Regions from separate parts of the Homo sapiens genome. Here all the other regions are linked to region 1. Evidence: fine-mapped QTL for protein levels in blood plasma. A gene starts in region 1. Each other region holds a variant in brackets. All regions are shown on one strand. Distances are between the middles of the regions.

Evidence for each region. PIP is the posterior inclusion probability: the model's chance that the variant is causal. Protein levels are from antibody-based Olink assays in UK Biobank. Linkage for the fine-mapping came from a reference panel and not from the study's own genotypes, which makes the PIPs less certain.
Region 2: its variant is fine-mapped to the plasma level of the GUSB protein (UK Biobank, PIP above 0.99).
Region 3: its variant is fine-mapped to the plasma level of the GUSB protein (UK Biobank, PIP above 0.99).
Region 4: its variant is fine-mapped to the plasma level of the GUSB protein (UK Biobank, PIP above 0.99).
Region 5: its variant is fine-mapped to the plasma level of the GUSB protein (UK Biobank, PIP above 0.99).
Region 6: its variant is fine-mapped to the plasma level of the GUSB protein (UK Biobank, PIP above 0.99).
Region 7: its variant is fine-mapped to the plasma level of the GUSB protein (UK Biobank, PIP above 0.99).

Annotation. Positions count from the first base shown.
Region 1 is chr7:65,980,481-65,984,549 of GRCh38, forward strand. It overlaps GUSB (glucuronidase beta), which reads right to left and starts at 1,733. Exons shown (of 12, transcript NM_000181.4): 1 at 1,494-1,733. The coding sequence starts at 1,703. RefSeq lists enhancers at 1-322, 1,779-1,908.
Region 2 is chr7:65,640,404-65,644,472 of GRCh38, forward strand. No RefSeq gene overlaps it. Among named protein-coding and RNA genes, the nearest start is that of SNORA22, 110 kb to the right of the region's middle. The variant C/T (reference allele first, on the strand shown) is at 2,362.
Region 3 is chr7:66,908,488-66,912,556 of GRCh38, forward strand. No RefSeq gene overlaps it. Among named protein-coding and RNA genes, the nearest start is that of LINC02604, 6.4 kb to the left of the region's middle. The variant A/G (reference allele first, on the strand shown) is at 1,688.
Region 4 is chr7:65,619,279-65,623,347 of GRCh38, forward strand. No RefSeq gene overlaps it. Among named protein-coding and RNA genes, the nearest start is that of SNORA22, 130 kb to the right of the region's middle. The variant GA/G (reference allele first, on the strand shown) is at 1,558.
Region 5 is chr7:65,628,892-65,632,960 of GRCh38, forward strand. No RefSeq gene overlaps it. Among named protein-coding and RNA genes, the nearest start is that of SNORA22, 120 kb to the right of the region's middle. The variant G/A (reference allele first, on the strand shown) is at 1,569.
Region 6 is chr7:65,681,560-65,685,628 of GRCh38, forward strand. All of the region lies in intron 3 of LINC03006 (long intergenic non-protein coding RNA 3006), which reads right to left. It also overlaps the pseudogene INTS4P2. Among named protein-coding and RNA genes, the nearest start is that of SNORA22, 72 kb to the right of the region's middle. The variant T/C (reference allele first, on the strand shown) is at 2,473.
Region 7 is chr7:65,497,571-65,501,639 of GRCh38, forward strand. It overlaps the pseudogene LOC101929322. Among named protein-coding and RNA genes, the nearest start is that of ZNF92, 130 kb to the left of the region's middle. The variant T/TTAAG (reference allele first, on the strand shown) is at 1,976.

The DNA of each region.
Region 1 (4,069 bases):
TGCCCCCAGGCCTAGCACAAGCCCTGACACATAGCGGGGATTCTTGGCAGAAAGGACAGATAACTTGCTGATGACAGGTCAACTGCCAGGGCGATCTGTGCACCTGGGCCAGTGGGGCCAGGAGTTCCTCCTCAGAGTGGATGGGGCACAATATCTCCTGAGACAGGAGCAAGCCCAGGGCCACATCCCAGCCAGAGGCAAGAAGGTTCAGACCTGTGACTAAGAGGCAGATGGCCACTGCCTGTCACAGGGAGGAAGGCTGGTTGGAGGAATGGGGGGAGCTTTGCTTAGGACACTGTGAGTGGGGTGCACACTGGCACCCAGCCCCCTCCTCTTTCCCTCCTGTACTGAATGCTGCAAAGTCAGAATAAGAGGATGTAGACCAGGCAAAAGCCGCCCAGACCTCACCCAGTTCCACTTCTCTGCAGATCACATCCAAGTCAGGAGGGGAACAGGGGTGGCGTCCTGGGCCTGATGTCATGTCCTGTCCTCTATGTGAACCTTGAAAACCAAGGGACTTCCTGCCTCGGCAGAGCTGACCTCAGGACATCTAAACTGTCACCTTCTCCCGATCCCCGGGCCCAGCTCTGTGCAGTGCATGCCGCTGTGGCCAGAGTGTGTGGGTGGCTCATGCCAGTAATCAGCGCTTTGGGAGGTCAACGTGGGAGGATGGCTTGAGGCCAGGAGTTCGAGACCACCCTGGGTAAATAGTGACACCCTGTATCTTTTTTTTTTTTTTAAGTTTTTTTGCCTTTTTTTTTTTTTTGGAGACGTAGTCTCACTATGTCGCCCAAGTTGGAGTGCAGTGGCATCCTGATCTCAGCTCACTGCAACCTCTACTCCCGGGTTCAAGCAATTCTCCTGACTCAGCCTCCCAAGTAGCTGGGATTACAGGCATGAACCACCACACTTGGCTAATTTTTATATTTTTAGTAGAGATGAGGTTTCACCCTGTTATGTTGGCCAGCCTGGTCTCAAACTCCTGGCCTCAGGCGATTCGCCCGCCTCCACCTCCCAAAGTGCTGGGATTACAGGTGTGAGCCACCGAGCCCAGATAATTTTTTTTTTTTCAATTAGCCAGGCGTGTTGGCACCCCCTAAATTGCAAGGCTGGGGCGGGAGAATCGCTTGAGCTCAGAAGTTAGGCTGGCGCCACTCCGCCCCAGCCTGGGAAACAGGTGCAAACCCAGTCTCAAAAAAATTTTTAAAAATTAAAAATAAATATTGAAAGGAAGGATACTGCACAGACTCAGCCTTTACCTCGGGAAAGGGCTCGGCAAGAGCCTTTTCTCCTCCTGCCTAATCCGCCCCGGCCCTCCAGGGTGCTCCTGTTCCCCCGTCCCCCAAGCCGGCGCCCCCAAGCCCGTTGACCTTTAACCTCCTGCGGGCCCCAGCTCGGAGACGCCCAGGGGAAGAAGTCTGCGGGGGGCCCGGGCTCCCCTACTCCCACCGCCGGGCTTTCGGGCGCCTCCCGGCCCTGCCCCGAGATCGCACCTCCCACAGCGGCCGCCGGTACCACTGCTCCTCGAAGCCCCGGCGTCGGTTGTCAGAGAAGTCGGCGCGGAAGCTCCAGAGGCCGTCCAGCTCCTTGCACTCCCGCGACGGGCTCTCCTGGGGGTACAGCATCCCGCCCTGCAGCCCCAGCGCGCAGCCCCACAACAACGGCCCGAGCGCCGCCCAGGCAACCGCCGACCCCCGGGCCATGCTTCCCGGTCCCCCGCTCGGCCACCGTCTGCGGCGCTAAGAAAAGCGCGGGAGGTGCCCGTAGGGCGGGTCGCGTGACGCGCCGGTGTCGTGATGCGCCTGAAGCCATCCGCGCCATCTTGGTTGAGGACGAGTGCCAGGCCTGGAGGGGCGGGGCCGGGCGCTGCCCGGTAGGGCTTGTGGCTGGAACCCCAGGCTAGGCCTTTGGGGAAACGGGACCCTCACCCTCAGCCCCAGCCGATAAGGGCGAGGTCTGCTCCCCACCCCGACCCAGGCTGGACGATCCAGGGCCGCAGGCCAGAACAGAACCCCTGAGATCGGTGGGATCCCCCTGTTTCTTCAAGGAGCACCTCCACTTGCTTTTCCCAGCAGGAATTCAAGGAGGCCCCAGCGGCGCCTCTTCCATGCCTGTCTGATGCAGCCTCTTGCAGGGATGCACGTCCTTGGGATGCGGCCATAGCCTTGACCCTGGGCTTCTGGAGCCCTGACCTTAACCCAGGGGCCAAGAGCTCCCTCTTGGTGTTGCAGGCACATAAAGATGCAGGGAGAGAGGCCAGGTGCACTTTGGGAACCCGAGGGGGGCAGATCACTTGAGGCCAGGAGTTCGAGACCAGCCTGGCCAACGATAGTGAAACCCCGTCCCTATTTTGTAAACATACAAAAAAAAAAAAAAGAATTAGCGGGGCGTGATGGTGCGTGCCTGTAATCCCAGCTACTCAGGAAGCTGAGGTAGGAGAATCGCTTGAACCCGGGAGGCAAAGGCTGCAGTAAGCCGAGATCGCACCACTGCACTCCAGCCTGGGCAACAGAGCGAGACTCTGTCTCAAAAAAAAAAAAAAAATTGCAGGGAAAGGGTGCCCTGCGGGACCCCAGTTTACTCCAGTAGGGAAGGCACCGTGTGGGAGAGGTAGAGGAGGAGATCTGGAGACAGCAAAGGAGACATAGATTTATGGAGGGGACTTTCATACAGGGACGGTGCAGTGGCCATTGCTGGACATGAGAACCACTACCATTTGTAAAAAGCATGCAGCTTACATAACATTTTCAACTAGCATCCTCGACCTGTTACTGGTGGAGTTCCGGGTGGTGAATCCCTACACATCAGCAACAACCTCAATTCTTGCCTCCTCAGAAGAAAGAATTGCACTGAGGGGCATAAGGCAGAAAGCCAGAGGGAGGTAAGCTGCAGAGCAGTAGTAAAAGCTTGTTAAAAAGCAGGCCAGTGCTGAGCGTAGTGGCTCACACCTGTAATCCCAGCACTTTGGGAGGCGGAGGTGGGGGGATCACGAGGTCAGGGGTTTGAGACCAGCCTGGCCAATATGATGAAACCCCATCTCTACTAAAAAATTAGCTGGGCATGGTGGCATGCGCCCGTAGTCCCAGCTACTCGGGAGGCTGAGGCAGGAGAATCGATTGAACGCGGGAGGCAGAGGTTGCAGTCAGCCGAGATCGCACCACAGCACTACAGCCTGGCGAGAGAGCAAGACTCAGTCTAAAAAAAAAAGCAGGCCAGGCACAGAGGTTCAGGCCTGTAACTCCAAACTCCAGCACTTTGGGAGGCCAAGGCGGGAGGATCACTTGATATCAGGAGTTTGAGACCAACCTGGCCAACGTGGAGAAACCCCATCTCTACTAAAAATACAAAAATTAGCCAGGCGTGGTGGCAGGCACCTGTAATCCCTACTATTTGGGAGGCTGAGGCAGGAGAAATGCTTTAACCCAGGAGGCAGAGGTTGCAGTGAGCTGAGATCACGCCACCGCACTCCAGCCTGGGCTACAGAGTGAGATGCCATTTCAGGAAAAAAAAAAATATTAAAAAACTTTAGAACAGGAAGGAAAGAAGGAAAGTACAACTTGGAAGAGGGCCAAGTGGGTGATCTAAGAAACCAAGTGCCTTGGCCAGGTGCGGTGGCTCACGCCTGTCATCCCAGCACTTTGGGAGGCTGAAGCAGGCAGATCACCTGAGGTTGGGAGTTCGAGACCAGCCTGACCAATATGGAGAAACCGCATCTCCATATTTAGCTGGGCATGGTGGCACATGTCTGTAATCCCAGCTACTCGGGAAGGCTGAGGTGAGAGAATCGCCTGAACCAGAGATTGCAGTGAGCCGAGATCACGCCATTGTACTCCAGCCTGGGCAACAAGAGTGAAACTCCTACAAAAAAAAAGAAAAAGGAAAACAAGTGCCCAGCTTGACCTCTTGACTCAGGGTTTCATAGATTGGCATCCTTCCAGGATCTTGCCACTCCTGATTCCTTAGCTGGGGCTCTGAACATACATTCTTAGACCATAAAGTCATTCGCAGGGTGCACAACAGTTACGGATGTCAGGTGCCTCTGCCATACAGAGGGAGCCCTCATGTCCTA
Region 2 (4,069 bases), 340 kb before region 1:
TTCTCCATTTGCCATGCCCCCATGCACTCAACACTATTCCATGTCTTCCGTGTGCTCTGGGAAGCTGACCCTTGTCATTTGCATGACTGGGACTCTCTGCTCTCTGTGTTTGTCTTGGGTGGGGCCTATGGAAGGCTTTAGCAGGATATTGGAGGGCAGGAAGAGAAAGAAGTCAGGGTATTTCTTCTTCAGGTCCTACTTCGGCCCTGTGCGCTGGCCGTGATCATGTCCTTTCAGGATATAACTCCCTTCGCCCTGTTCTCCTCTGTACCTCTTCTGATGCAGGGCTCCTAAGGAAACACTGCTCCTTTTCCTTGACTGTTTATCCCTAGGGGTAGTATTATATTCTCACCATTGCTATCCTTTGGGTGCCCTGCCACCTTGTTTGCTCCTTAAGTCTGTCTACAATTAATGCAAATAACTCCTTTATTAAAATCTCTTTATTTGAACACTCTGGGATGAATTCTGTTTTTTTCTGGGACCCTGACTAATACAGAGGCTGATACTACACCCATATGAAAATACATCAAAGATAATTTGCAAAGCATGTTTGAAAGCTCTACGTTAGGATCACTAGCACTGGCATGCCAAAAGGCACAGAAAAGAAAATACAGGGCATAGCAAAATATTGTTTCTTCTTAATAGAGAAACTGCCTCAGGGAGAGACTAGGCTGGTGAGAAGGGGGAAAGACTTTAAGAGTCTTATAGACCAGGCATTAGAGAATTGTGATAGGTTTTTGAGCCTGTGATAAAAGCTGTGTTTGGGGAAGATTTTTCTAGCAACCATTTGTAGGAGCAGTGGAATTAGGAAAAAAGGGTGACAGTAAGGAGAACAGTTAAAAGGCTTTTAAAATAAGCCAGTGTAAAGTGATTGGAGGCAGGTTCACAAAGTGGCAACAAGTATGAAAAATAAGGAATGAAATAAATAGTGAAAGAAACATTATTACTATTGGAATTTGCATTCTTGCTCATGTGATGCATTTGCTTCAAATTGGTGTAAGCTCTTCACATGCAGAGGGCTCATGTGCCTTGATGTAACATTAGATCAAGTGGCAGAAGCTAAATTTGGAATTAAGGCAATATTTGGTTGTAGGGAACATCATTCTCGTTTCTAGCTCTTGGACTTTATGTGGAAGCACTTTAAGTCCTAAGAGGCTAATTTTAGTTCAATCTATTTAGTTAACAATATTTCAGATCCTTAATTTTTAGTTTCCAGATGATCAGACTCCTCAGCTTGAAATGCAAGGGCATTATAGACTTCAAGCAAATTGCATGTGCATTAAGACTATCGAACTTGGGACGAGTAATCCTATAAAAGCAAAATCATTGCTGAAGCATTTTTGTAATCATGTATTCCTCCTGCATGTTCATTTGAAAATGTTCTCTTTTGGTGTGGAGGCAAATGAGCTGATTATATTGAGCTCCGTCCACCAATTTATTTATTTATCTAATAAACATTTTAATGAAGGGGTATCAGGCACGTTTATGTTTTACCCAAGAGACTTATTTAACAGTCATTCAACCATTTGGTCATTAATAGTGAAAAGGTCACAGGCTTTGGCATGAGGCAGGCCTGGGTTTGAAACAGATCTTCGCCATTTCCTAGAAGGGTTGTCTTAAGGCAAATTATTTTTTTAGACATGTTTTCAGTTTTTCTGTTAAAGGAAAAATTGTTTGTAAAGACTGCATTGTGACTGAGAAAGGGCACGCAAACTAGATGAGTTTAATCCTATCTCTCACTCCTGACTAACCTTATATGTATACACAAATACAAAATGCTCCAAGTTGGATGTGAAACAAATGGTGGTATAATACTCGCCCTTAAATATAATTGCAGATAGCCACAAAATATAAAACCATTTACGGATGTGAGAAAATTAGTATAATAAAGAAGAAAATACAGAATAACTTTTTCTTCTGTTATTTAACTGGTGTAAAATTAATTCCTTGACTCTCATATTTGTCAACAAATATGATAATGTATGTGGTGATGTACTGTTTTGCCTTGAGAAGGAAAAAATTATAGCCATAAAATATTTAAGAAAATTCTGGAAATAAGAGTAATAGAATTACTTTTTTCAGACATTTCCCAAATGTGTTTTAAATGGCTTTCCTGAAGGAGAAATAGAGAGGGAGAGAAAAAAAGAGAACATTTAGATATAATTACAGAAAAGACCTATGCATAATATTAGTGGACTTAAAAATAATCATGCATATTCATAACTGAATTGCTAATTAACATTCTCAGAATTTTGTTTAATGTAAGCAAGTTATCCTAATAGGGTTAGGGCAAAAACAATATGATAAAGATTGAAATCTGTGGCTATTTAAAAGCACTGAAAACTTGACTAAATTGCCTCT[C/T]CCCCTCCCTTAGACATAAACAATTAAGCCTCATCATGTTGTTTTTTCTTCCCCGCCGCCCCCTCCCCCCACCCCACCCCAAGACAGAGTCTCACTACTCTGTGGCCCAGGCTGGAGTGCAATGGCGCCATCTTGGCTCACTGCAACCTCCGCCTTCTGAGTTCAAGCAATTCTCCTGCCTCAGCCTCCCGAGTAGCTGAGATTACAGGGGCCCACCACTGCAATCTCAAAAAATACAAAAACTAAAAATAATTTTTGTATTTTTAGTAGAGATAGGGTTTCCCCATATTGGCCAGGCTGGTCTCGAACTCCTGACCTCAGGTGATCCACCTGTCTCCACCTCCCAAAGTGCTGGGATTACAGGCGTGAGCCACCGTGCCCGGCCTCATCATGTTTTTTAAACAATAAAAAGGGCAAGTTTTAGAAGACAGTATCTTAAGGCTGGGTGCGGTGGCTCATGCCTGTAATCCCAGCACTTTGGGAGGCCAAAATGGGTGGATAACTTGAGGTCAGGAGTTCGGGAACAGCCTGACCAACATGGTGAAACCCTATCCCATCTCTGCTAAAAGCACAAATGAATTAGCCAGGCATGATGGCGGGTGCCCATAATCCCAGCTATTCGGGAGGCTGAGGCTGGAGAATCGCTTGAACCCAGGAAATGGAGGTTGCAGTGAGCCGAGATGGCGCCACTGCACTCCCGCCTGTGCGACAGAGCAAGACTCTGTCTCAAAAAAACAACAAAAAAGACATATTAAGATACAATAACACTTTGAGCCTTTGCTGATTGTTGATGAGTTTCAAACTCACAGAGGGTTTTGAAGAAAGGCTGGCAGAACTTGAAGGCAGAACACGTGGGCTGAAGTCCTGTCTATGCCTGTTACTAAATAGCAATGTGAGCTTCTGGAGGACTCTGAACTCTCTCAGCCTCTGTGAAATGGAGATAACATTTCCTGTGGAGCTGCGTCAGAGATGTTGGGGAAATCATATGGAAATCAAGTATAGCTGTCAACAAGTTTTGTGAATTGTAAATGACCTTAAGCATACGAAGTATTAGTCATCTATTCACTCATCACACATGGAGCATGCCTAGTGTTAGGAGGCACGTGGTGGGGTTGGCGGGGGTGTGGTCATTAACATGGTGAATGAGATCTTCAGAAGCAGTGTGTTCCCCTGGGTAAGGGCATGGGCTTTGGAGTTAAACCCACCTAGAGTAATTCAGGGCTCATCACTCCGTGACCTCCTGTCCTGAGACCTTAATTTGTCCAATGTTACATCATTGTAAATCCCAGTTTCTTTAACGCGGATATGAAAAAACACCATATATTTCACAGGGGAGTTATGAGGATGTGAGAACTATGATCAAGCACTTAACTTCACATGTTCAAAGTGCTCAATGACAGTTGGCAACTATCAATCAACTCTTCACACATTATATCTCTAATCAAGGAAAGCAGGCATTTGCACCAATAATGACAGAACAAAACAACATGGGGGAGAGTAGTAGTATAAACAACTTTGAGAGTTCATAGGTGGGCTGCCATACTTTCAGCTAGAGTGATAAGTAAAGACTTTGGAGACAGGTAAATATTAAGAATAAATCTTGAAGAACGAGTCATACCTCAATAGGAAGAGATATGATTGGTGGACAGCATTTTAGGTAGACAGAGAATAGAATGAGCTAAAGTGTAGAGATGAGAAATTTGAGTAC
Region 3 (4,069 bases), 930 kb after region 1:
CCCAAATTTCTTTGTCACCAGTTTTCCAATCATGCTTCTTCCAAGTCCCTGGCCATAGAGCCAAACCATTGGCTACAGCCCATGAGTCAGTATATAATCGCACACCTGGCCATTTCCTTCCATGCAAAGTGCACAACCAGGTGCACTGCTTGAAGTTCTGTCCACTGGAAAGATTTTTCTTCACTGCTGTCCATAAGGGATGTCCCAGAAAGGGGCTGTAGTGCTGCAGCTGTCCATTTTTGGGTGGTGCCTGCATATCGTGCAGAACCACCTGTGAACCAGCCCCTAGTCTTCTCTTCCTCTGTCAACTGATCATAGGGAACTCCCCATGAGGCCATCATTTCAGGCTGGGGAAGAGAAGATAGGGTGGCAGGAGTGGAGACCACGAGCATTTGAGCCACTTCCTCATGTAACTTACTTGTGCCTTCAGGACCAGCTGGAGCCCGATCACATATATACCACCTCCATCTGATGATGGAATGCTGCTGTGCACGACCCACTTTATGGCTAGGTGGGTCAGAAAACACCAGTTCATGACAGGTAGTTCAGGTCTCATGGTGACTTGATGACCCATAGTCAAATGTTCAGTTTCCACCAAAGCCCAGTAATAAGTGAAGAGCTGTCTCTCAAAAGGAGAGTAGTTATATGCAGAAGATGGCAGGGCCTTGCTCCAAAATCCTAGAGGCCTATGGGGGTCTGCCAGAGGCTCCAAACACCATCCCTATCTGCCACTGACACCTCAAGCACCACTGGGTCCGCTGGGTCATATGGCCCAAGTGGCAGAGCAGCTTGCACAGTGGACTGGACCTGTTGCAGAGCCTTCTCCTGTTCTGGACCCCACTTCTGGTACCAAAATGTGTATTAGGGTCCAGGGTCCACTAAAGGGACAGAACTAATAGAATATATATATATATATATGAATTTATTAAGGGGTATTAACTCAATCACAAGGTCCCATCACAGGCCATCTGCAAGCTGAGGAGCAAGGAAGCCAGTTTGAGTTCCAAAGCTGAAGAACTTGGAGTCCGATGTTTGAAGGCAGGAACCATCCAGCACAGGAGAAAGATGTAGGCTCAGAGGCTAAGCCAGTCTAATCTCTTCACGTTCTTCTGCCTACTTTTTATTGTGGCCTCGCTGGCAGCTGATTAGATGGTGCCCACCTGGATTGAGGGTAGGTCTGCGTCTCCCAGTCCACTGACTCAAATGTTAATCTCCTTTGGCAACACCCTCACAGACACACCCAAGAACAATACTTTGCATCCTTCAATCCAATCAAGTTGACACTCAATATTAACCATCACACCCCTCCTCCTTTCCCCAATTCCCACCACAAAAGCATAATAATTTGTCCAAAGAGTCCTACACTTAGTCCTTCTCTGAACAAAATGCCGGGTGGTTGTAGGCTGAGTGTCACTCCTTTATCACGTCTCCTCAGTTTTTTTTTTTATTTTTGAGACAGGGTTTCCCTCTTGCCCAGGCTGGAGTGCAGTGACACAATCCTAGCTCACTCTAGCCTTCAATCCTGGGTTCCAAATGATCCTCCCCCTTCCGCCTCCTGAGTAGCTGGGACTACAGCTACTTAACCACTATGAACCACTTCTGGCTCATTTTTAAATTTTTTATAGATACGGGGTCTCACTAGATTGCTCAGGCTGATGTGGAACTCCTGGCCTCAAGCGATCTGCCC[A/G]CCACAACCTGGTTCAAGCGATTCTGCCTCTGCCTCCCAAGTAGCTGGGATTACAAGTGCGCACAACCATGCCCAGCTAACTTTTGTATTTTTAGTAGAGATGGGGTTTCACCATGTTAGCCAGGATGGTCTCGATCTCCTGACCTCGGCCTCCCAAAGTGCTGGGATTACAGACATGACAGTGTTTTAATTGCCCATTTTAATTTTCAATTAACCTGAGAGTTTGAGAGTGATAAAGAATGTGATAAGTCCATCGAATATGCTGGTTCTTTGCTCATTGTTGCTCGGCATGGGCTGTGGATTGAGTGTCTTGATCTGGGAAAACGTAACTGAGAGTGCCAAACCAATATGGCTATCAAAGCCAAACAGACCAGGTGTGATCACTCATGCCTGTAATCCCAGCACTTTGGAAAGCTGAGGCAGGAGGATCACTTGAGCCCAGGAATTTGAGACCAGCCTGGGCAACATAGTGAGACCCTATTTCTACAAAAAAATTAAAAAATTAGCTAGGCTTGGTGGCATGCACTGGTAGTGCCAGCTACTCAAGAGGCTGAAGTGGGAGGATCGCCTGAGCCTCTGAAGTTGAGGCTGCAGTAAGCTGTGATTGCACCTCTGTACTCCTGCCTGGGCAACAGGTGATACCCTGCCTGTAAAAACTAAAAATAATTAAAAAATAAAAACAAAGCCAAACTCAGAGTATGCATGCAGACCTGTCGGTGTCCATTTAATTTCTCTTGGAAAAATGGGTAAAGGGCCAGTATCATCTACTTGCCAGCTGTGGGCTGGACTTCCTCCCCAGGAAATACTCCCAGACCTAACTGCAAACATAACCTTTTCTGTTGGTAAACAGAGCAATGTTTAGTAAACATTTGAACTTCTGCAGGGAAAGTACTACATGGTGCTCAGCCCCTCACTTCATGGCACGAGTGCCCCGGGCCCACTCATTTTATGGACCCACATTGCTACTTTATGAGATTGAAGTAGGGCAGGTGCAGTTGCTCAAGCCTGTAATCCCAGTACTTTGGGAAGCTGAAGCAGTAGAATTGCTTGAGGTCAGGAGTTTGAGACCAGCCTGGGCAACATAGGGAGACCCCATCTCTACTAAAAAAAAAAAAATTAGCTGGGTGTGGTGGCACATGCCTGTGGTCCCAGCTACTTGGGAGCCTGAGATGGGAGGATCTACTTGAATTTGGAAGGTTGAAGCTGCAGTGAGCTGTGATGGTGCTACTGCACTCCAGCCTGGGCAACAGAGCAAGACCCTGCCTCAAAAATAAATAAATAAAATGAACTAAGGGGCCAGGTGCAGTGGCTCATGCCTGTAATCCCAGTACTTTGGGAGGCCGAGGCAGGTAGATCGTTTGAGGTAAGGAGTTTGAGACCAGCCTGGCCAACATGATGAAACCTTGTCTCCACTAAAATACAAAAGTTAGCAGGATGTGGTGGTGCATGCCTGCAATCCCAACTATTCAGGAGGCTGAGCCAGGAGAATCACTTGAACCCAGGAGGCGGAGGTTGCAGTGAGCCAAGATCGCTCCACTGCACTCCAGCCTAAGTGACAGAGTGAGACTCCATCTCATAAAAAAATAAACTAGGTATTCACTTGTTGATTCTGGCCACCTTCAGACCCTGGCATAAGGCTTCTTTTGGTGAGCATTGACATGCCCTGCTTTGATTTGCCTTTTATTTTATTTATTTTATATATATTTTCAGAGACGGGGTTTTGTTCTGTTCCCCAGGCTGGAGTGCAGTGGTACGATCATAGCTCACTGCAGCCTCAACCTCCTGGACTCAAGCGATTCTCCTCCCTCAGCTCCCCAAGTACCTGGGACCACAGGCGTGTGCGACTATACCTGGCTAATTTTTTTTTTTTTATTTTGTAGAGATGGAGTCCTGCTATGTTGCCCAGGCTTGTCTCCAACTCCTGGCCTCAAGCAGTCCTCCCATCTTGGTCTCTCAGAGTGCTGAGACTATAGGCATGAGCCACTGCACCTGGTCTCACTTGCCTTTTAAATTCCCATGGAGGTTTCCCAAGGGCAGTAGTCCACAAGGGGATGCATTGTATTCTCCAGTAACGTAAGAACCCACTTAAGCCACATTGCAAGTCCACTGACAAGTGTCAATCTGCAGCCAACCAATGGGTCCTTTATCTGTGTCCAGTTCATCAATTACTGCGCTGAATATAGCCCCTGGGTCAGCTTGTGTTTGCCAATCTCCTGGACTCAGGTAGCAGCTCTCCATGTTGATCTATGGCCTGTGATTCTGAAACTGTAATCTGTGGGCCAGCCAGTTGCCTGGAATCCTCTGGCAATTGGTTGAACAGAGGGGTACATATGGCAATAGTAGCAGGCAGGTCCCTGGACATCTCTAGAGTAAGTCCTAGGA
Region 4 (4,069 bases), 360 kb before region 1:
ATAGTGTCTCAGGGCTCAGCATACACTGATCATTCAAAAAACTTAAATTTGTTTATTGGTTCTTTCAATTGATCAGCAAGTTTTTATTGAACATATACCATGCATACAGTACTGAGGTATCTGGGAAACATTTATTGTCTACTTTGGAAAATGTACTTTATTAGGTTTGATGGAATACAGACAAATAAGACATGGTATTGCTCTCCAGGGGTTCAAAATGTAATATGTATCATAATAAGTTGCTATAAGACAGTATTTTTCAACTATTTTAATCCCTGTCTCCTATAATACTATTATTTTCTTAAATCCTGCATAGCAGCTATCTTGGAACATGTATGATTTTTTGATGCTTTACTTTCCATAGCTTGTGCTTGAAAATAATAATGATATTGAATATGCATTTTTGAATATATGATTAAAACTATATTTATTTTCAGATGATTGTGCACATAGAAAAAAAACTCGCATAATTTTTTTTTTTGAGACAGAGTTTTGCTCTTTCACCCAGGGTGGAGAGCAGTGGCGCGATCTTGGCTCACTGCAACTCTGCCTTCTGGTTTCAAGCGATTCTCCTGCCTCAGCCTCCTGAGTAGCTGGGACTACAGGTGCATGCCACAACACCTGGCTAATTTTTGTATTTTTAGTAGAGATGGGGTTTCACCGTGTTGGCCAGGCTGGTCTCAAACTCCCGACCTCGTGATCCACCCACCTTGGCCTCCCAAAGTGCTGGGATTACAGGCGTGAGCCACCATGCCTGGCCCAAAACCACATAATTTTAAAAGTTACTTAGAAATGAGTAGTAAATTTAGCAAGGTTACAGATATGAGGTCAATATAAACATTCACTTTTAATGTACATATTAGAAACTAACACATAGAAAATGAAATTTAAAGAATACTGCTTATAGTAGGATCAAAAACATACAACATATATAAGGGTCAATTTTAACAAAAATGCGCAAATCCTTTACACTGAAAACTACACAACTTGAATGTGTGTTTTAGAAATGATTCATTCCTTCTTCTACCCCGCCACCCCCAGACTTTGATATGTCCTCCTTTCCCTCCTCCTCACTTTCTTTGGAAATAGCTGTTCAAATAAAAGATGTAATATACTAAAAGCTAGCACAGACGTATAAACAGAGACAGAACAAGGAGGTGGAAATGGGTGCCACGCTGTGGAAGAATCTGATTTCAGGCTTCCATGTGCCAGGCACTTTTCCAGGAGCTGGGTTGAGTGAAGAAAGGCAATATTCATGCTCACGGGGCTTACATTTGAGTGTGGGGAGATGGACACTCCATAATAAACATAAATGAACAGATGTGTTCAGATGCTGAGATGTGCTTAGAAGAAATACAACAGATTAACTGTGAAAGACTAACCTGGGTATTAGGAGGAGGAAGGTAATTAGACTGTGTGGTCCAAGTATGCCTCGCCAGAGGAGGTGACATTTGAGATAAGACCTGAGTGACAAGAAGTGATCAGTTGTGTAAAGATATGACGGGAGTGCATGACAAGCTCTAGCGCCAGAGTAAGGCTCTTTTGTTCAAAGTAAAG[GA/G]AAAAAAAAATAGTTCAGGGAGGTTGGAGCAAGAGTGAATATCGCGAGAGGAAGCGTGATGACAGCTGAGGCTTTGATGATAGTCTGGAGCCAGATCATGCACGGTCTTGAAGTTCTTTCCAGAAGTTCCAGAGTTGCGGAATTTGGGCTTTATTCTACCAGTAGGACACAATGTCTTGAGGCTCTTCATCTAGAGAATTGCTCAGACACTCGGTTCAAGAAGATTTGCCTGGCAGAAGTGTGAGGAGGATTGGGGTTCAGGGGAGAAAATGGAGGCAGGTCAATGAGGACTCATCCAGTATCCTGGGGACAGGCCGTCATGGTCTAAGAAGTGCTAACTAGGGGCCGGGCACGGTGGTACGGTGATGCACGCCTGTAATCCTAGCACTTTGGGAGGCCGAGGTGGGCGTATTGCCTGAGCTCAGGAGTTTGAATCCAGCCTGGGCAACATGGTGAAAACCCATCTCTACTAAAAATACAAAAAATTAGCCCGGCGTGGTGGCGGGCGCCTGTAGTCCCAGCTACTTGGGAGGCTGAGGCAGGAGAATTGCTTGAACCCGGGAGGTGGAGGTTGCAGTGAACCGAGATTGCACCACTGCACCCAGCCTGGGCGACAGAGTGAGACTCCATCTCCAAAAAAAAAAAAAAAAAAAAAAAGCTAGCTAGGGATGTAACACACAGGACAGACGCTCTGGTAGGTAGTGTTATGTTTATCTAACGCTATATAGTGTTGTATTTATATAACAACCAGCTGAGTGGTTGATGCTGGGGCGAAGATCGTTAAATCATGGAGGATGCTGATGTTAAACCTCTATCGGGGAGGTCTAGGAAAATGGTGATGTAATTAGTTAACAGAGGAAAAATAAAATAAATAGAATGGTTAGGTGTTTGGGAATAAACTTGAATTTTGTTCTGAGATAGCCCCGTGAAACTGGCCAGCAGGTGGCAGCATAAGGTCTGGGACCCCACAGACAGTTCACTAAAATTTGAGATTAGGAAGTCTTGGAGATTTTGAAGTTAAAGACAAAAGCAGAAATGCAATTGCCATGGGAGACTGAGAAAAGATGAGGAGTGATGACTGAGAATTCAAGGGCAGGAACCAGGAAAGGACACTGAGAATGCTGGGCTTGGGGGAAGGAGATGAACCGGGAGTCAAGGTTGTCTCAGTCTCCAGGAGAAAGACAGGTGCGTGAGGTTTCAGTGCTGCAGGGACTTGCAGCTGAGAGATAAGGGTGTGCCTGGGTAACCAAATTAGAGGGGTTGAGAGAGAACAGAATAGAAGTGGAGGAAGGGATGCTGTTTAAAGAAGTTTTGAGAGAAAGAAAGTAGATATGGTGGGAGAGCTTGAGAAAGAATTGGAGATTTCTTTAGGATAGGGCACGTTTAAGCATGTTTTCAAAAAAAAGAGAAGGGATAACTAGTGAAAGAGAATAAATGCAGAGTAGGATCTTGATGGAAACTTTAAGGAGAGGCATTAAAGACCAATGTTACCTTTAAATCATGTGATTTGGTTGGGGGATAAAAAGGTACACACAAACATATACTTAATCAGAGAGGAAAGTTCTATGATTAAATGCTAAATTTGGATATAGATAATTAGGGAAGTTCAGAAAATGTATGTAAGTTCACATTGTAAAATCCAAAGCTCTGTGGAGGAGATGAGTGTTTGATGACAAGAAGGATTTGGGAAAGACATCCAAGATGAGAAGAAATGGGGAGTCAGCAGGACAAAGGCATGGAGTAGGACGTGATGTGTAGGTGCGTGAACAGCAGTAAAAAGGTCCAGCTTCTTGGAGAGGAGGATACATGAATGGAAAATACAAAGTGGCAATTTATAGATGGGTTTGGAAGGAGAGTTAAGACACTTACATGCTTTCCACTGAGATATATTTTACACTATGCTTAACTTTGAGTTCTGAATGTTATTGTTTGATTCTCTTTAAATTCATTTCCTGTTATTTAGACTGTATTGGTGAAAATACCCCAGTTAATGAAATGGATGGACTCACACACACACACACACACACACACACACACACTGTTAACCAGTCACATAACTTTTTAATAGGCTGTTTTCAGAATAACCAGTTTCTCCAAACTCATATTTTCTTTCTTTTTTTTTTTTAACTCGTAAGTGGGAGTTGAACAATGAGAACATATGGACACAGGGAGGGGAACATCACAAGTGGGACCTGTCAGGGGGTTGAGGGCAAAAGGAGAGTGAAAATTAGGCCAAATACCTAATGCATGCGGGGCTTAAAACCTAGACGATGGGTTGATGGGCGCAGCAAACCACCATGGCACATGTGTACCTATGTAACAAACCTGCACGTTCTGCACATGCATCCCAGAGCTTAAAGTACAATAAAAAAAATCATATTTTCTAAGTTCAGCCGAGGTATGTAGCTGTTCCTTTAGCATCTGTAGATGGTATATGATTAGACTTTTATTTCAGGCACAAATACTGAACTGGTTTGTGGCCGAATCCAGATTCTGTGGCATCTCTGCCTC
Region 5 (4,069 bases), 350 kb before region 1:
GTCATTTAAAAAGGTTTCATTTATACAATTTTAAAAATGTAAAAAATTCATGTCCTTTGCCCACTTTTTGATGGGGTTGTTTGTTTTTTCCTTGTAAATTTGTTTGAACAGACACTTCTCAAAAGAAGACATTTATGCAGCCAAAAAACACATGAAAAAATGCTCACCATCACTGGCCATCAGAGAAATGCAAATCAAAACCACAGTGAGATACCATCTCACACCAGTTAGAATGGCGATCATTAAAAAGTCAGGAAACAACAGGTGCTGGAGAGGATGTGGAGAAATAGGAACACTTTTACACTGTTGGTGGAACTGTAAACTAGTTCAACCATTGTGGAAGTCAGTGTGGCGATTCCTCAGGGATCTAGAACTAGAAATACCATTTGACCCAGCCATCCCATTACTGGGTATATACCCAAAGGACTATAAATCATGCTGCTATAAAGACACATGAACACGTATGTTTATTGCGGCACTATTCACAATAGCAAAGACTTGGAACCAAACCAAATGTCCAACAATGATAGACTGGATTAAGAAAATGTGGCACATATACACCATGGAATACTATGCAGCCATAAAAAATGATGAGTTCATGTCCTTTGTAGGGACATGGATGAAATTGGAAATCATCATTCTCAGTAAACTATCGCAAGAACAAAAAACCAAACACCGCATGTTCTCACTCATAGGTGGGAATTGAACAATGAGAACACATGGACACAGGAAGAGGAACATCACACTCTGGGGACTGTTGTGGGGTGGGGGAAGCGGGGAGGGATAGCATTAGGAGATATACCTAATGTAAATGACGAGTTAATGGGTGCAGCACACCAGCATGGCACATGTATACATATGTAACTAAACTGCACATTGTGCACATGTACCCTAAAACTTAAAGTATAATAATAATAAAAATAAATAAATAAAAAGTAAAAATAAAAATGTAAAAAGTTATACAAATATTAAAACTATATTTATTTATACAATTTAAGCATTTTCTAAAAAATTATTAGTTTATTAGGGTTTTTTGTTTGGTTTTTTTTTGTTTGTTTGTTTGTTTTGTTTTTTTTTTACCTTGCAAGAACATGAGCTTCATGTAGGAAGAGATTTTGTTTCATTCACAGCTGCATCTCAGTGCCTTGGGTGGCATCTGGCACAAACAGGCTTCCTTAAAATATTTGTGGAATAAATGAAAGAATTAAATTCAGCTTATTTTCTGCTCTTTGTCAAGCACTAGCTATTAGATGTCAAGGACATGTTCGTGAGCAAAACGAAAATGGTTATTGTCCTCATGGGGCTTATAGTCTAATTGGGAAGGTGAATAATTTAGCACAGTTCCTGCAATGCAATGTGTTATGTTAACTGAATAGTCAGCATATAGCAGGGAGAACTGATGTAGCCTAAGGGAGAAGATGGGTGTCATTGAAGTTGAGACTAAAATATGAGCAGAATTAAGAAAAAGAGGTTATCAGTAGTAGTATTGTTTTAACCAGAGGGTGGCACAAAGAGCAGTGGGCAAGAGAAAGGATGGCAGTTGTAGAGACTAGGAGAGGGGGATAGTA[G/A]GAGAGTAAGGATAGAGACCTAGGCAAGGGACAGATCATATAAGACTTTATATGCCTCAAGAGGCAGTTGAAAAATGTTTTGAAAGTCAATGAATGGGCACCAGAAGGTTTTAAGCAGAATAATAGAATCACCATCTTAGAAAGATTATTCTGGCTGTAGTATGGATAATGTATTGGTGAGGCATAACACTGGAGGAAGGGAGACCCATGAGATACTACAGTAATTTTCCAGAAATGATAGTGGCCCAGCCTATGATGGTTGCACTGTACTAGGAATGGACAGAAGTAGATGGACATATTAATAAAAAGACATTTTAGGGATATATGTAGGGCTTGGCAATTAATTGGATGTTTAAGGAGAGGACAAATCAAGGATGATGCCTTGATTCTTGGCATGGGAAATTCGGTCATTGATTGAAAGAGCATTCCTGATATAATGAATGATTGGGGAAGAGGGGGAAGGAGGATGATGAATTTTGTGGGATATACTGAGTTTAAGGAGCCTATGAGATATACAGCTGCAGATGTCTGGGAAAGGTTAGTTGGTTATGTGAGTCTGAAGCTAAGAATACAAGGTCTTGCTGAGACAGAGAATTGGGGCCTCACTAGTATATTAATGGGACTTGGTGAGACAGATTCAGAAAGTATGTGGGGTGGAAATTGCAGAGGGCCTGAGATAGAGCCTTGAGGACTCAGAAATGTGTTGAAGGAGAGGACCCTGGCATTCCAGTTTCTCTAGAAATCGTTTTCCCTGTCCATAAGTGGAGCCCCTCCGGCCATGTCTCTATTCTACAACCCTGATCCTCTCCCTGGTGTCTCTTCAGCCACAACTGATTGATTTAACACTGAGCTCTTCACTAAAGCTAAATTATCAGAGTCCTTCCGAGTAATATCTAAAATGGGAGTGAAAGGAGGAGGATCATTCTCTCTCAGGGGGTGGGAGGCAGTAGTTTGAGGCTGTGAGATATGAGGCTGGGAAGTTTCCACCACAAGGGGGAAGCTGACCTGGAAGAATAATACTGACTTGTGCAACAGAATAAAGGTGGCAGATGGAAAGAGTTCTGATGGTGATGAGGACCTTAACCAGGCTTTTCTTGTAGATATGTGAGATAGTTCAAGGTTCTCCTAATTATGTTTTCCCATTTTTAGCTAGCAACCTAGAGTCCAGACTAGTACATTATAATAATAGTTGCCTCATAGAGCGGTTGGGAAGTTAAAGGAAATAATATGCATAAAGATTATTGCCTGCTACATAGGGAATATAACAGATACTGTTGCCTACTGATTTAACAACTTCCTTTTCTTTGAAGCCAGCACTGTCTAATAGAACTTTCTGAGGTGAAGAAGATTTTTCCATATCTGCATTGTTTAATAGAGCAGCCATTAGTGACATGTGGCTATTGGTCACTTGATGGAATATGGCTAGTGCAAACTGAAAAAATTGAATTTCAAATTGTATTTAACTTTAATTACTTTACACTTAAATGTAAATGTAACTTTGATTTCTTTACATTTAAATGTGGCTAATGACTATCATATTGGACAGCAGAAGTCTAGGGTGATAGACCTAAAGAACAACAATTTTTAAAGCCATTTTGGATTGGATTTTCTATCATTTGCAGCTGCAAGCATCCTAACTAATACTATGTATTAAAAATAAGTGGAAATGATTTATTTAACATGGCATGAACATCCCTCATTTTAAGATGATATTAAAGAATTAAATTTTTGTTTTTATATAGAAATTCTGAATTAAGTCAGAAGGTGAATGTTTGCCATACACACAAATTATTAAAGTAATTTCTCACAGGTTTCCTAAATACCAACTTCTCAGTCAGTGAATATAAAATGTGACTCGATTTATTAAAATTAAAATGATATACAGCTTTTCAACAACATTTCATTCAGATATATTTCTACATAAGTTGCAGAATTATAAAACACACATACTAGAGATTGTCCCTAACTTTATCAAAATAATTCTCCTTTGGGTTCCTTTAACAACATGCCCTCTAGTCTACCAAAATATTATTTTACAGATGGTGGGGGTGTGCTACTTGCAACCCAGACAGACAATAATTCAGCTAAGCATTTTTCTTTGCAGTAAGTGAAAATCTGTTCAAAGTGCTGGAAGTTTTATCAACTGGACCATAAGACCCAAGAGGAACTAAGTGTTTCTGTTACGCTTTCTGTGTTTAATAATTCCCAGCCTTGTTAGTAGACACTCAAACACTGCATCCTAGCTGTGGAATCTTGGGTAGGTAACATAGTCTCTGAGAAATTTTGATAAATGCTAATTTTCCGTGTTTTTAGATTTTGGTGGTGAGACTGGTGGTTGCTACCTCTATGCCTGTCTTTCACAAAGGTCACTCAAATTGCTCTGGTTTCTTTTTATGTTACCAAAATGCTCTATAGCTAAACTATTGAGCTTAAATGTCAAACTTGCATTATGTTTAGAAATGGGTACTTATCTCTTTATGCACCTTTCCCTTACACCCCAA
Region 6 (4,069 bases), 300 kb before region 1:
GGATTGCTGGGTCAAATGGTATTTCTGGTTCTAGATCCTTGAGGAATCGCTACACTGTCTTCCACAATGGCTGAACTAATTTACACTCCCACCAACAGTGTAAAAGTGTTCCTGTTTCTCCACATCTTCTCCAGCATCTGTTGTTTCCTGACTTTTTAATGATCGCCATTCTAACTGGTGTGAGATGGTATCTCACTGTGGTTTTGATTTGCATTTCTCTAATGACCAGTGATGATGAGCTTTTTTTAATATGTTTGTTGGTTGCATAAATGTCTTCTTTTGAGAAGTGTCTGTTCGTATCATTTGCCCACTTTTTGATGGGGTCATGGTTTTTTTCTTTTTTGTGTGTGTGAATTTAAGTTCCTTGTAGATTCTGGATATTAGCTCTTTGTCAGATGGATAGGTTACAAAAATTTTCTCCCATTGTGTAGGTTGCCTGTTCACTCTGATGATAGTTTCTTTTGCTGTGCAGAAGCTCTTTAGTTTAATTAGATCCCAGTTGTCAATTTTGGCTTCGTTGCCGTTGCTTTTGGTGTTTTAGTCATGAAGTCTTTGCCAATGCCCGTGTCCTGAATGGTATTGCCTAGATTTTCTTCTAGGGTTTTTATGGTTTTAGGTCTTACATTTAAGCCTTTAATCCATCTTGAGTTAATTTTTGTATAAAGTATAAGGAAGGGATCCAGTTTCAGTTTTCTGCGTATGGCTAGCCAGTTTTCCTAACACCATTTATTAAATAGAGAATCCTTTCCCTGTTGGTTGTTTTTGTCAGGTTTGTCAAAGATCAGATGGTTGTAGATGTGTGGTGTTATTTCTGAGGGCTCTGTTCTGTTCCATTGGTCTATATATCTGTTTTGGTACCAGTACTATGCTGTTTTGGTTACTGTAGCCTTGTAGTATAGTTTGAAGTCAGGTAGCGTGAGGCCTCCAGCTTTGTTCTTTTTGCTTAGAATTGTCTTGGCTATGTGGGCCCTTTTTTGGTTCCATACTAGTATATATATTTAAGGGGTACATGAGATGTTTTGATACAGGCATGAAATATGAAATAATCACATCATATAGATAGGTATCCATCTCCTCAAGGATTTATCCTTCGTGTTGCAAATGTTATTAAGATGTAATCAAATTAACTTAAGTTTAAAAAGTGAGTATACCATAACCAGGTATCAGGTATGACAGCTTTCTAATTTTATCACATTTATACAATTCTGGGAAAATTTGGGTTTTAGGGGTGCATTGCTGGGAATGAAATGGAGCCTTATTTCGCTGGCTGTTCACTCTAGTGTAGTGCCTCACATACTTCTAGTCTTCTAATTTATCCATCTTCTCTCTCCTTTTTGGGACTTTGTGCATGCAGCTTTTCTTCTAGAAAGGCCTTTTTCTTTCTTTTGGCTTAGCAGCTCTTTTAGTTATTGTTTTTAGGGATCACGTATTACAGAAAGCCACCTCTGATCCCATTGATTGGGCTATATTTCTTCATATGCATTTTCTTACATTCCCTGTGCTTTTCCATGGCAACAGTCATCACTCTGTAATGCAATTAACTGTTCTTATTTGTAAGCCTGGGGGATAGTCTTGCTTTTGTTCATCTTTGTGTCTTTAGTACTAAGTACAAACCTAATAGGTAGCTAAGTCTGGACCCAATTATACATGTGCAGATGCTGACGATCAGTCTTTTTTAAAATATAGTATAGTAGATTCCTTTTCTCTGCTCTGTACCCATGGGGAATCTGTGACATATTATTTATTTATTTTTAATTAACTTTTTTTATAGAGATGGGGTCTCACTATGTTGCCCAGGCTGGTGTTGAACTCCTGGGCTCAAGTGATCCTCCTGCCTTGGCCTCTCAAAGTGCTGGGATTATAGGCGTGACATGCCTGGCCGACGTATCTTCAACGTTCCAAAAAGTTCAGTGGAAAATATCAATTTTCTTGCTTATAGTCTGGCCGTTCAGGCAAAGTAAAATACCACATTTCTTTGCTTCTGCTTGGAACTGTATCAGCTGAGGTCACACTGATTATCTCTTTCTGATCAGAAATTCCTTCCTGATTGCCTTGGTGGACTTGCAAACGTTACATATGAGTCAGTGTGGTGTAATGGTTAAAATTCTAGGAGGAAGAGCCAGCACTTAACATGTTTGGGTTTATCTCTAGCTTGCCTTATAATTAGCAATTTCATGTTTAAATTATATTATTGTGAAATGAAGAAAATTGTTCTCTTCTGATGAAAAGGAGGAATTCATAACTACCAAGAAAAACCTGAATCATCTGTCTTTAATGTAGTAACTCTACTTTTAACATGTCTATAAAACCTTTCTTTATACAAAGAGGAAATTGTGTTTGTGAGTTTTAACCACAACTTTAGGTACTTTTTGTTTTGTTTGTTTTGGAATAGTCCATTTTGTTACAGAAGCATATGGGAATCACTAGAAAAAAACAACCATGTATAGAAGTCTTGTGAGCATTTTCTGTGTC[T/C]TACTCATTTCTCATCTTTGTATCCTAGCCCTTAGTACTGCACCTAGCATATAGTACGTGTTCAGGACCCATTTATTAGTGAATGAAGAAAGGGCTTCCTCGGATCAGTGGCTTTATTGTTTACATGTTCTGAGCATGCCAAGGGGTGGAAAACATGCCTCTGTTTTCAGGGTGCTTACAGAACCCAAACCTATACCCTAGGTGATACTTATTGAGCCCTTAAAATATGCCAGGCAGAGTCCCTATGTGCTTTACCTGTATTATCTCATTTAGTCCTAACAACTCTGTAAGGAAATGAGTATTATGTCCATTTACCAGGTGAGAAATTTGAGGTGCCAGGAAGTTGAGTTACTTATTCAAGATCACCCTCCAACTTAGTGGAGGGATCATTCACTACAGTGTGCTCTGAGACCTCTATCATTCCAAGCATGTATCCTTAACCACTATATGATTTTAGCCTACAATCAACAGACCTGAGTATTGGTCCTAGTCCTGCCCTCATTCACTTTGAGGCAAGTTAATCCACGTTGCTGAATCTTACCTGTAAAATTCGAACAATGATATTTAGTCTACTTTAATCTTAATAATAATGATAACATTATTTACTAACTGACTTTTTAAAAAGTACTGTGGTCGGAATACTGAGATAAGTAAGACAATTTAATTTTCAAGAAGTTAATGTAGACAGACATGTAGACAGACTCATCACATATATGTGGAGTCAGATTTAAGCCATAGTCCTTGTGATACTAAAGTCCATGTTCTTAGATCGATGTTAAGGTGGGTGGTATGTGAAACTGTGGGCATAGAGATCTCCCAGGGAGAGTTTATAGAATGAGAGGAGTAGAGAATAGAAGACAGCCTGAAGGAGAATGAATCCATCTTGGACTTTTCCCATGGCTCTTAATTTGATATGAGTTACTTTATATATATATAAAATATGGGGCTTCAGTGTGTTGCTCAGGCCAGCCTTGAACTCCTGAGCTCAAATGATCCTCCCACCTCAGCTTCCTGAGTAGCTGGGACTTTGGTGTATGGCATTGCACCTGGCTGATGTGCAGTTTTTGTTTTTTTGTTTTTGGAGTTTTTTTTTTTTTTGAGACAGGGGCCCAGTCTGTCACCAGGACGGAGTGTAGTGGCACAATCATGGCTCACTGCAGCCTCAAACTCCTGGGCACAAGTGATCTTCCTCCCTCAGCCTCCCAAGTAGATGGGACTATAGGCGTGCGCCACCACACTTGGCTAATTTGTTTTTTGTGTGTTTTGTTTTGAGATAGGGTCTCGTTCTGTCACCAGGCTGGAGTGCAGTGGCACGACCTTGGCTAACTGTAATTTCTGCCTCCCAGGTTCAAGTGATCCTCCCATCTCAGCCTCCCAAGTAGCTGAGAGAACAGGCGCACACTACCACAGCCAGCTAATTTTTTAATATTTTTGGTAGAAACAGAGTTTTACCACATTGCATAGGCGGGCTCAAGTGGTCTGCCTACCTTGGCCTCCCAAAGTGTTGGGATTACAGGCATGAGCCACTGTGCCCAGCCTGATGTGCAATTTCATTTGTTCTTTTTTCTAGAGGTTCGTATTGCTGCTGTGGAGGCCC
Region 7 (4,069 bases), 480 kb before region 1:
AACTGATTTTGCCCTACGGAAATGTACCAAAATGAATGAGTGCAGATTCCTACTGTCATTCATCACATAGGACAGTAAAGAAATACACAGCTTTTCCCAAGATAGGGCATCACACAGGAGCTCCTCCCTAAAGCTAGGACCAAAATTTCTGTCCTCAGTATAAACAAGAATCAGAGGTAAATTAGTCCCATTTCACATTCCCTGGAAATGGCAAATAAAAATGACTTGAGATTGGACAGATTTAAAGAAACTCAATCATTAATGATTTACAGCAATTAATTTAAAAATTGTTTAAATGTGCAGTCCAAACATACATCCAAACACCTTTAGGCCAAGAATTAACATAATGTGGTCCCAGAATGGTGGTGTCTTTAGTAGACTCACAAAAAAATTCAAATTCTCTTTGGCAAATTTTCTTCTTACTAATCCTCAAAAGTGCACAAAAATAATTTTCAGAGAAAAATAAATATTTGTCATTCAAAGGCATCTAAGTACGCAAGGAAATGATATTCCACCATCTGAAAGGAAAGCAGAACAAGAGTACAAACAGATCCACAAAGTTTCATTAGTAGAAATATCACTGTTAGATTATAAAGCAAATTTGCTTTAAAAAAATTTAAAATAAAATGAATATATTTTTAGGAGACTAAAAAATTGATGTAGCAAATTCGAAAAGTAGTTTGTATAAAAATATAGTATTTTAAATTAAAAACTCAAAAATGAACTCATCAGATTAGACATGGCCATGGTGAGAGTTCATAAATATTTCAGAATGCATTACAGAAAATTTTAAAAAATGCAAAATGTGGACAGAATCATTAAGAGACATGGATGATACAGTGAGAAAGTGTAGCATGTGTGTAGTGAGTGTTCTCATACAAGAATAGAACTGGGAAGGGAGAATATGTGATGGTATTTTGGCTGAAAGTTCTCTAGACTTTTGTAAGACACTAATCCGCATGTTCAAAAATTCCATGCATGCTAAGCAAGCTACAATGGAGATAAACCTACACCTACGTATCTCCTAGAGTAATAGTAAACAATCAGGAAGGGAAAAATATTTCACTTAGCACTAGAAAAATCAAATTACCTTTAATCATATTGAAATCTGAAAGAATGAAAGGTAAAATAATAGTATTTGTTAAAAATAATAATGCCATTCTGAAATTCTCAAGCAAGAAAAATATTCATCAACCTATGGCTAAATAACATATTTAGAGACAAAAAACAAAACGCCACCAGCAGAATTCCACTAAAGAAACTAAAGAGAAACTCTGAAAACATGCTTCAGAAAGGCTGAAGTTCTGAAATCAGAGAATGAACACAGAGCAAAATATACTGTAAACATACAGATAGATCTAAATAAAAAATTAGGTGTTGAAACAAAAAGATATTCAAAATTAGATAAGCACTGCAATATGTATGTTAGGAAGCAAATTATTAGGGCTGAAGTATTCAAAGACCCCTTAATTGTCCGACAAGAGCAGAAAGGTGAGTATGACTTTGCAACTCTTTTTTTTTGTTTTTTTGAGAAGGAGTCTCACTCACTCTTTCGTCCAGGCTGGAGTGCAGTGGCGCCATCTCGGCTCACTGCAACCTCTGCCTCCCAGGTTCAAGCAATTCTCCTGCCTCAGCCTCCTGAGTAGCGGGGATTACAGCCGCGTGCCACCATGCCTGGCTGATTTCTGTATTTTTAGTAGTGACGGGGTTTCACCATGTTGGTCAGGCTAGTCTCCAACTCCTGACCTCATGATCCACATGCCTCGGCCTCCCGAAGTGTTGAGATTACAGGCGTGAGCCACGGCGCGCGACCGACTTTGGAACTTTAATAAATTCGCTGGACATTATGCATTTCTCTGTTGTATCTATGAAAACAATAAAAATAAGTCATAATTTAAAAACAAGAAGACAGAAACTAATAGGAGAAAATGAGACATTTTATATATATATATACACAACAAATTAATAAAACAAA[T/TTAAG]TAAGTATAAATGATCAAAGATTAACTTAAACCTAAGTACACGATGTTTCTATTAAAATACAAAGATTGGCAAAATTAAAAAAATCCGTCTCTATCATAGTTACAAGAGAGGCAACTAATATATAAATTTACAGAAACTTTGAAATTCAAACAATACAGATACTGTGTATATATGATATACATACATACTACATGAATATAATTTTTTAAAAAGTTGCTATGCAGACAAAATAGAATGTAAGTTAGAAACATTTATTAAAATAAGTTAGTCTAACCAGTGTGATAAAAATTTTAAGTTATTAAGATGTGATGACTTAAATGTGCATTAGCCTGATACATATATACATAAATACACACACAACACACTCTCACACACACACACACACACACACACGTATTTAGAGAGTCAAATTATATAAAGCAAAAATATCAGAAAGTAAGTAGAAATGGATAAGCCCCCAAATCATTATAGACATTTCAAACACACATCTTTCAGTAATAGATAAAAGAAAAAATTAAAAGAGTAAGTTTTAAAAGAAGCTAGTGGATTTTAAAAAGGGCAAATGTTTTATAAGGAACATGAATATTATAATTCATGTTATTTTCATGTTCATACAGAATACTTACAAAAATTAACATTTTCTAGACCATAACACAAATTCAAACAATTTTCACGGAAATAACGTGACACAGAATATATTTCCTAAACAAACAGCAATGAAGGTAGATATCAATACAAAAAAGAAAGCTAGAAACATAAGTCTAATAATATTGGTTGGAAGCTATTTTAATGAATATTGAAATATTATAAAGGTCAATAGTCAATACAATGAACCAAACACTTTTTTAAGGCCACTAAGATGCAAGTATAATGTGTAATGCCTCCTTTTATAAGGAGTAAATCTGTAACATCACCTGGGCTATTTGACAACTGCAAAGTGAATGTGAGAAGGAGAGAAACAGTGAGAGAGAGAGAGAGAGATAAAACCAGTAAAATAAACATAAAGAACGAAGGAAATATCCAGGCGCCATGGGTCACGCCTGTAATCCCAGCACTTTGAGAGGCCGAGGCAGGTGGATCACCTGAGGTCAGGAGTTCGAGACCAGCCTGGTCCAACATGGTGAAACCCATTCTCTACTAAATACACAAAAATTAGCCTGGCATGGTGGCATGCAGCTGTAATCCCAGCTACTCGGGAGGCTGAGGTGGGAGAATTGCTTGAATGTGGCGGGTGGAGGTTGTAGTGAGTAGAGATCATGCCACTGCACTCCAGCTTGGGCGACAGAGCAAGACTCTGTCTCAAAAAAAAAAAAAAAAAAAAAAAAAAAAAAAAAAGAGGAGGAACCGGTACATGAAAAAGCAGAATTAAAGCCACAGAGTATATATTTAAAAATGCAAAAGCTCACTTTTTCAGAAAAATATTAAAATATTAAATCTAACAAATATCTAGGTAGACTGATGGAGAAAAATACAGAAAATGCACAAAAAACCAATTACCTGGAATGCAAAGGTTACAAAACGTCAGCAGTTGTAGATTTTAAATAAGCAATGACTTTGAGTTCAACCATGATGGGGTATATTGAAAAGAATCTCTCAGAAAAAAAGAAAAAAAACTGTTATAAAGCTATGTATAAAATGTTAAGCACTATTAAAGTCTTCCAATTATACCAGTTATGGAGTTATTTGTCTTGGACTAACTCTCCTGAAAAGAAAAAAACAAAACAAAACCTAAAAACCCGGATAAAATAGCCTACCGTGGGCAATGGCAATGCAACCAAGCAGGTAGGACATGGGTGCTACATTCTCTTTGTCAGAACACAAAGCATTCATACACTCTTCTCACCCTCACTCTCACCTTTTAATCTTAGATCTACTATTAAAAGTATTCAACATTACTATCAATCCTTTGGCCAAAATTTCTTTACTCACATTTTGCTTGATGCACTTGGATAGACTGTTCAAGAAAGTGTGAGTAGTGAATTCCTCAAACTCTTGCATATTTAAAATTACATTTTTGAACCTTGATGCTTGAAGTGTAGCTTGGGTAACGGGTGGGCTTTAAGCCAATTTTGGCATGCAAGGGGTTGAGTTTA